Homo sapiens: one gene and its partner. Each later gene encodes a partner of the first gene's protein in a complex. Each region holds a gene or a part of one and is shown on either strand. Other genes may lie near its edges. The genes, in order: ADM2 and CALCRL. A codon is read from its position in the direction of its gene.

Region 1 (3,918 bases):
AGAGGTGGGCGGATTGCTTGAGGTCCAGACTTCAAGATCAGCCTGGCCAGCATGGTGAAACCCCGTCTCTACTAAAAATACAAAAATTAGCCAGGTGTGGTGGCAGGCGCCTGTAACCCCAGCTACTTGGGAGGCTGAGGCAGGAGAATTACTTGAACCTGGGAGGCGGAGGTCGCAGTGAGCCAAGATTGTGCCACTGCACTCCAGCCTGGGCGACAGAGTGAGACTCCATCTCAAAAAAGCAAACAAACAACAACAACAACAAAACACTGGGTGCAGTGGCTCACACCTGTAATCACAGCACTTTGGGAGGCCAAGGTGGGTGGATCACCTAAGGTCAGGAATTCGAGACCATCCTGGCCAACATGGTGAAACCCTCTCTCAAATACAAAAATTATCTGGGCGTGGTGGTGGGCACTTATAATTCCAGCTACTCAGGAGGCTGAGGCAGGAGAATCGCTTAAACCTGGGAGGCGGAGTTTGCAGTGAGCTGAGATTTCGCCACGGCACTCCAGCCTGGGTGACACAGTGGGACTCCATCTCAAAAAAAAAAAAAACATATAAATGTGACACTCCCTGCCCCCTCAACTGGTCAAAATAAGTAAATAATACCTGCAAGGCATCCCTGCCCTCCCAGATCGGCCTGTGGGGTGTGTGCTCGGCACTCCTCGACTTATTCACCCAGCAAATGTTGACTGTGCTCCCATGGTGTGTCAGCAGGAGGGTTACGGGGTGAGCGCAGGGGTTGGGGAGACAGAAGGGGAAGCACGAACGGACGCAGAGATCCTCAGCTCACCCAACAGAGAGGCCAGTCTCAGCAGCTTGGAACCCGTGACACCAAGTCCAGGACTCGTGGACAGTGGGTAGGCGAAAGCTCTGTGGAGAACAGTGAACCATCTATCAACATAAACACATGCTCACCTTCAACCAGAATTTCTACTTCCAGGAAGGTGTCCTATAGACACATCTGTGAGCTCAAGGCAGCAACTCATGAAAAGACTGGCAGTCACCTAATTTCATATTAATAGCAGATGAGATGAATCATACAACACCTATATGTTGGAGTAGATCCAACCATAGGAAAGAGTGGGGTCTCTGATGTGAGGACGGTCGGGCTGTGACGCCTGTCACCCCACTGGTCACCAGTGTTGATTCGGCTGATGTGGCTGGCTCAGAGGCAGGTGTCCCCCTCCTTCCCCACTGTTCCCTGTGCGTCCCTCCGAAGCTGCACGCTCCATCGAAGAGGATGGAGGACCGGGCTTCGAGTAGCTGCGCTCCTCTGCCAGGACCTCCAAACAAGCTCTCAGGAAAGAACGGGGTCTCAGTCCTACTGCAAATCTGCACACATGGATGTGTGTGCCTCACATAGCCACACCTAGGTGTGCCCAGGGCAAGTCAGGAGAGGGCTCCCCCCCAGACCAGGGTAGGGGTCCCAAGTGGGTGGCAATGGTGAGGGGAGTCTCACGTTTCACTCGTTTTAAATTTTTCTTTTTCTTTTTTTTTTTTCTTTTTTTGAGACGGAGTCTCGCTCTGTCGCCCAAGCTGGAGTGCAATGCCGCGATGTCGGCTCACTGCAACCTCCGCCGCCTGGATTCAAGCCTCAGCCTTTCCTGCCTCAGCCTCCCGAGTAGCTGAGATTACAGGCACCCGCCACCACGCCCGGCTAATTTTTTGTATTTTTAGTAGAGACGGCCTTTCACCTTGTTAGCCAGGATGGTCTCGATCTCCTGACCTCGTGATCCGCCCGCCTCGGCTTCCCAAACTGCTGGGATTACAGGCGTGAGCCACCGCGCCCGGACACTTTAAATCTGTTACAAAAACCGTGCAATACTTTGGTCCGGGGTTGGAGCGGCCGAGGGTCGGTACAGCCTTTTAGGAGCGCAGCCCCGGGGTCGGCGGCACCGCGTCAGAGGAGAGCGGAATGGCCAGCCCGCTGCGGAATCCCGCGGACTTGCTGGTCAGGCTGGGGGGCCGGGGTCCACCGGGTCAGACCCTGGAGGGTGGGACCGCCCGGACTCGGGAGGTGGTTGACGGGGTGGGCCCCGTCGGGTCCGAGTCCGCCCCAGCCGTGGGATCAGCTCGGACGACGGTTCGCCCCCCAGAACCCCGCTGCAGCGTGGGGAAGTCCGGCCCCCGCAGGCTCGGGGCTGCGTCCCCACCAGAAGGCGCTTGGAGTGAGGCTGGCGGTCCCGCGGTCCCGGGCCGGTCGCCGAGCGCTCCCAGCGGGGACAGGCCCCTCCACCGCTCCCTTCGCCGCAGCCCCCTCCCCGCCCCGAGGGTGGCTGGGCCCGGAGGAGGGGCGCCCCGCCCCGTCCGTGCATCCGGCTCCGCCCCTTGCTGGAAAGGCTACGTATTCAGCCCTGGAGGTGCCATCCCGGGCCGCGACTCCGCTCCAGGCAGGACCCCCAACCCGCCCAGCCCGCTCCGCCTTGCGCCCCGGACCCGCGGCCGACCCCAGACCCGCTGCCCGCTTCGCGCCCGAGGCCTGCGCCCCGACGGACGCCCGTGCCCAGCTTGCCACGCCCACGCCCGGCGCCCCGACCGCGGAGGACTCCCCGAGGTGCCGGCGGAGGGGGTGGCTCGCGGCTCAGGCTGCCCCCGACGTGCCCGGCTCACCGCCCCCTCCCCTGCAGCCCCGCCCGCCATGGCCCGGATCCCGACGGCCGCCCTGGGTTGCATCAGCCTCCTCTGCCTGCAGCTCCCTGGCTCGCTGTCCCGCAGCCTGGGCGGGGACCCGCGACCCGTCAAACCCAGGTGAGTCCAGGTCTTGGGCCAGCCAACCCCTCTGGCCCCCGCAGGGAAGCAGAGTGCCGGGGGCCGCGGGGCCGCCCTCCCTCCACGCCTCCACCTGCTGCTAGGACTCCCCTCCCAAACAAAGGCCCCTACCCCAGGCTCAGGAGCGCCTGAGCAGGGCCAGAGGCCCCTCTTTCTCTGCCTCCCTACACAGGGCAGTTGCTCCTCCCCACACACATGGGCACAGCAGCCCCTCTTCTGGGGGTGTCTGCTGGGGGAGGGGAGGCTGGCGGTATCCCTGGCCGGCCTGTGACCACCCTAAAGGGAGGGCAGAAGCCGAGTCACCCTGAGCCCTGAGAGTGGTGACCCGCAGAGGCTGGGCCGCCGGGGTGCCCTTTGGCCAAGGAGGTGCCGGTTCCCGGGACACGTGACCCGGGCCACTGAGATGGTCCCAGGCCCAAGCCCAGAGGGGACGCGGGCTTCCCCTGGCCGTGCTCCAGGCTGTGTGTGGATGGGGGCTGTGGGCTTCCCCTGGCAGTGACCCAGGCCTGTGTAGAGGCAAAAGTGGGCAGGTGTGAGTTCTCCAAAAGGCTGAGCCATCTGGTTGACATTCTCCATCTGCCTCTGCAGGGAGCCCCCAGCCCGGAGCCCTTCCAGCAGCCTGCAGCCCAGGCACCCCGCACCCCGACCTGTGGTCTGGAAGCTTCACCGGGCCCTCCAGGCACAGAGGGGTGCCGGCCTGGCCCCTGTTATGGGTCAGCCTCTCCGGGATGGTGGCCGCCAACACTCGGGCCCCCGAAGACACTCGGGCCCCCGCAGGACCCAAGCCCAGCTCCTGCGAGTGGGCTGTGTGCTGGGCACCTGCCAGGTGCAGAATCTCAGCCACCGCCTGTGGCAACTCATGGGACCGGCCGGCCGGCAGGACTCAGCTCCTGTGGACCCCAGCAGCCCCCACAGCTATGGCTGAGGTGGGGCCGGGCCACACCCCTGCCCATCCCAGCCAGGGTGCTGTGCCCCCGTCCAGAGCTGCAGCTGAGCCCCATCTGAAGCCCAGTCCCTCGGAGCTGCAGACAGCAGGTCCTGCAGCAACAATACCTGCACGGCTTTGCACACGTAAACCTAGGCTGGTCTACACGCAGTGCTGGTACGTCAAGGAGCCTAAACACCCTGAAATTGTGACCCCCT
Region 2 (3,918 bases), on another chromosome or scaffold:
TAATTCTGGTTTTGGAGATATAATGATTACAGTATCGACTTTTCACAATACAAATATGTTCAAGAAATAGTATTTAAAATCTTTTGCTTTATTGCGTATCTTATGCTTGGCATTCAGAGAAGCTATTAAACCATAAACACAAGCGCTATCATTGCAAGGGTGTTAATGAAAGACGCTCTTATGAGAGTCAAGTGTGTAACGTATCTTAGTTTTGACTTAATCAGAATATTGGAGAATACGCTTAAGATAGACAAATGGTACACAGCTATTTAAAACATTTATCTGTATCTGGTTTTCAAATCCATGGGTAAACTATAAACATTCATAATTTCTCAGGTATGTTCTATTTTTCTGACAAAGTACATGTACCATACTGGATTACAAATTATTTCAAGACATCTTCTCGTTTAATATACAAAAATATTATGATGCAAATAGGTGGAAAATAAAAACTTACCAGAAATACAAGTCTACATTCTAACCAGATGGATCTATCCTTTTCCCATATATTCACATGGACCATGTAAATTAGATTAGGTCAATTAATCTCTGCATTTTTCCTTATTTGAATAATCTTAAAATCAAATTAATTTAATTATAATAAGCTATATTACAAAAAAGAGAAGAAATGTATTCAATTTTTAAGGACATAATAAGGTCTTACTTCTTCTTACAAAAATATAAAATAGTATCACTGCCTGTGAACTGAGTTAGGGTCTATGTTTCCTAGGTTACTAGAATTATTATCAGGTAATAAGTTGCAAATATTTTCCTAAAACACATTTCTTCCATTTTTTTCTTCAATTAGTTTGTTTACTTAAGAGACAGTATTATTCAAAACTAATACACCAAAATATTATTGTTTGCAAAAATGGCCCAAATAGTGTATTTACTTTTGAAATGTTAAGCAAGTTTTATTTTTTAATGTTTTCATGGTTTAAATTAAATGTGTTATACACCTTTTCCATTACTAAAAATTAAAAAGACAAAAATCCCAACCCAGTTCAATCTAGCATAAGCCAAAATGAATACATAAATAACCCCTATGGTATTGGGGCTATAGTTTTATATTTTATTAACACTGCTGGATGGAGCCCAATTTTCAGACAAATCTTATTTCCCTTAACATGGAACATATCTTTTTGAATTAAAAAGTGTTAATATGACATAAACTTTTGTATAAAACTGTAGTTATTTCTCTATTCAGGCTTAGGCTAACCTAAGCTCATTTATGTTTCTCATGAAATTATGGTGAATTTTGAGCATATCATTTGGTATGTTAAATTGCAATGATTTACTTACATAGCAACTAGATGGTTTATAAGTGCCCATCTCCTTACAGTGCAGTCACATGGAGGATCAATAGCATATTCGTGAGCACACAGGTTTGGTTTTATTAACCAAAATGAAGATAAATTTTTCTTGTATCCAACTACCAAATTCATAAATTTTACAAATGAGTGTTAATTTGAACCCGCATTCACTAATTAAACTGAGACCAATGATTACACAGATATTTTGCATATGCACCTCAATTTTGCCTTTCTTCCAAGGATAATTTGAAGGAAAAATAGAAACTTTGGTAAGTATCAGAGAGCAATAAATAACATTATAATAGACAAAGAGAGTTAAAACCATGGGAAAAGAATGTCATCAATACAAAACTGTGATTTTTATTTTGTACTTAGTAATGGAAACAATATTAGAGTAACATGTTTATTGTTTTATTAGTCAATGTGCATATGTCTTTAAAATTTTACTTTTAATGATGTATTTGTTTCTGTCTTTTCTACAAATATACCAATGTACTTTATAAATTAAGAAAAAATATGCATTTATTTTAGAAATTTAGGTATATGGTATTTATAGAAGTACACTGTGATGCGCTTTGGATTTAGATCATCCACATAAGAACCCAAAATTTACCACTTATTAGTTCCCCTTTCTCATCCATAAAGTGGAAGTGATAATCATATTGCTTTATAAGGTTTTGTAAGTAATCCATGAATTAACACGTGGAAATTTTTTAGCACTTGGCATTTAGTACATATTCAATAAATTTTCATGTTCACCTTAAGTCTGTTGTGAATGAGACTGAGGACATAATTTGTTTCTATGCAAAATTTTATTCCAAACAATCAACACCCATACGGATAAACAGAATGCAATCTATCTGTAAGACAGGAAGAGTGAACAAGTGTGATTTATAATTACAGTTGTTACAGTGACCATCCTTTTGCCATTATACAATACATGCCAGAACCTAATAAAATTGATATTGATAATTACTATCTCCATAGAACTTGAGCACTTTAAAATACCTGCATATTAACAATTTAAAAAGGTATATTAAACAAAAATTATTGCGTTTCTTTACATGTGAAACTCAGTGAAACCCAAAGTTGCACAATCCTCGTTGACAAAACTCTGGTTTTATCCTACATATATTATGAATCTACATCCTAAATATTTCATTATACTATTGTGTATTATCTATTATTAGACCTCTCATTACTGAAGTTGTGCAAAGTTGAATAGTGATATGATTCACCAAATCCAAACTGAATCTCTTCTAACACAAGATAATAAAAGTAAATTTATTTACACAAATTTGTTTGCTACTTGTGTGACTATACTACAGTAGAGATAAATGTAGACATCTGTCGGAAAATTTTAGTTTTGATTACTATAGCAGCTCCACAATCTCAAAATGAGAACATTAAGAAGGATCCAATAAATTCAGCTTTTAGGATTCCAAGTTGTTTTTGACCATTTTTTTTAAAGTTCTTATTATAGGAACTTATTACTGCCACCTAATGGAAGACACTTATATTTTCTTATTTATTATATTTCAAAAATACAAAGAAAGAGTGCCTGTGCAATAGGATGGCAAAAAAAATTTAGGTTTTGGCTTAACATAATTCATTTTAAGAATTTATCATTGAATATTTTATAAATTAAGACCCACATTGAGAATGTAATGAAACCAAAACCTTTTTTTCCATAAATTAAAAAAAAATACATTCAAAGGGATTCTCATTTTGCTTACAGTTGCATGAGTTTCATAGGATCTCCTTTTTGTTAGCTATGTTAAGAGTTCTTCAACTCTCAGTTTAAACACCCATGTTGCAGGTAATTCACGTGACAGTTACTCTTATAAAATAAGGTAAAATATATATATACGTATATGTATACATATATACACACATATATGTGTGCGTATATATGTGTGTGTATGTATGTGTGTGTGTATGTATGTATATGTATATGTGTGTGTATGTATATATATATATATATATATATATATATATATATAATGTTTTTAAGCCACCTCAGATACTTTTATAGATCAAGGAGTAAGGAACAGAATTCAAAAGACAGACATGGACATCAGAAACAAATGGCCAAGAGTTTTCCCAGCAGACAGACAGCATGAGTTGCAGGGCGTTAGGAAAAACTATACAGTAAGTACAATCTGCAGTTGGTAATTTTCCATCTGTCTTTTGGTATCCCTCTCCTTCCACTAAGTTTTCTCACTTAGCCTGTCTAACGTTCACTTTTTTCCAAACCATAGGCCCAATAGCTGCATTCTGGCCTCAAGTGGTCAAGAGTAGCATATTTTCCTGTATGCTAAAATTGCTCTTTTTCTAAACAAATTAAAATCTGGTAATATTGCAGTATATTTCATTTGGGGGAAGGAAGCAGACTGATTTTTCATCCCAGAGTTTATTTCTGTCAAAGAATATTTATATTTTAACTCATATGACTATACATTTATTTCCTTTAGGGGATACTAGGATTAAACAATATGGTCCATAGAAGTACCTCATAAGAGGTACTTATGAGGTGCCTGGCCCTATGCTAGGTGTCGAAGGCCAACAAGACAGGTCTCCTGCTCTGGACAACAACACCACCACT

Evidence for each region.
Region 2: the proteins of ADM2 (region 1) and CALCRL are in contact, whole or in part, in a cryo-EM structure (PDB 6UVA), measured with the Homo sapiens proteins. Residues at the interface, in NP_001240774.1 of Homo sapiens: Leu106 (codon at 3,569), Arg107 (codon at 3,572), Val108 (codon at 3,575), Gly109 (codon at 3,578), Cys110 (codon at 3,581), Val111 (codon at 3,584), Leu112 (codon at 3,587), Gly113 (codon at 3,590), Thr114 (codon at 3,593), Cys115 (codon at 3,596), Gln116 (codon at 3,599), Val117 (codon at 3,602), Gln118 (codon at 3,605), Asn119 (codon at 3,608), Leu120 (codon at 3,611), Ser121 (codon at 3,614), His122 (codon at 3,617), Arg123 (codon at 3,620), Leu124 (codon at 3,623), Trp125 (codon at 3,626), Gln126 (codon at 3,629), Leu127 (codon at 3,632), Met128 (codon at 3,635), Gly129 (codon at 3,638), Pro130 (codon at 3,641), Ala131 (codon at 3,644), Gly132 (codon at 3,647), Arg133 (codon at 3,650), Gln134 (codon at 3,653), Asp135 (codon at 3,656); in NP_001258680.1 of Homo sapiens: Val36, Thr37, Lys40, Asp70, Gly71, Trp72, Asp90, Tyr91, Phe92, Gln93, Asp94, Phe95, Asp96, Pro97, Ser98, His114, Ala116, Ser117, Thr120, Trp121, Thr122, Tyr124, Thr125, Asn128, Thr131, Lys134, Val135, Ala138, Leu139, Leu141.

Annotation. Positions count from the first base shown.
Region 1 is NC_000022.11:50,479,204-50,483,121, forward strand, and holds the start of ADM2 (protein ADM2 preproprotein), read left to right. Parts: upstream 1-2,339; 5' UTR 2,340-2,560; exon of another isoform or gene 2,561-2,633; 5' UTR 2,634-2,644; coding exon 2,645-2,754; intron 2,755-3,363; coding exon 3,364-3,700; 3' UTR 3,701-3,918. UniProt on the Homo sapiens protein: Intermedin/ADM2 is a peptide hormone that plays a role as physiological regulator of gastrointestinal and cardiovascular bioactivities mediated by the CALCRL-RAMPs receptor complexes.
Region 2 is NC_000002.12:187,441,469-187,445,386, reverse strand, and holds part of CALCRL (calcitonin gene-related peptide type 1 receptor precursor), read left to right. Parts: intron 1-3,918. UniProt on the Homo sapiens protein: G protein-coupled receptor which specificity is determined by its interaction with receptor-activity-modifying proteins (RAMPs). Together with RAMP1, form the receptor complex for calcitonin-gene-related peptides CALCA/CGRP1 and CALCB/CGRP2.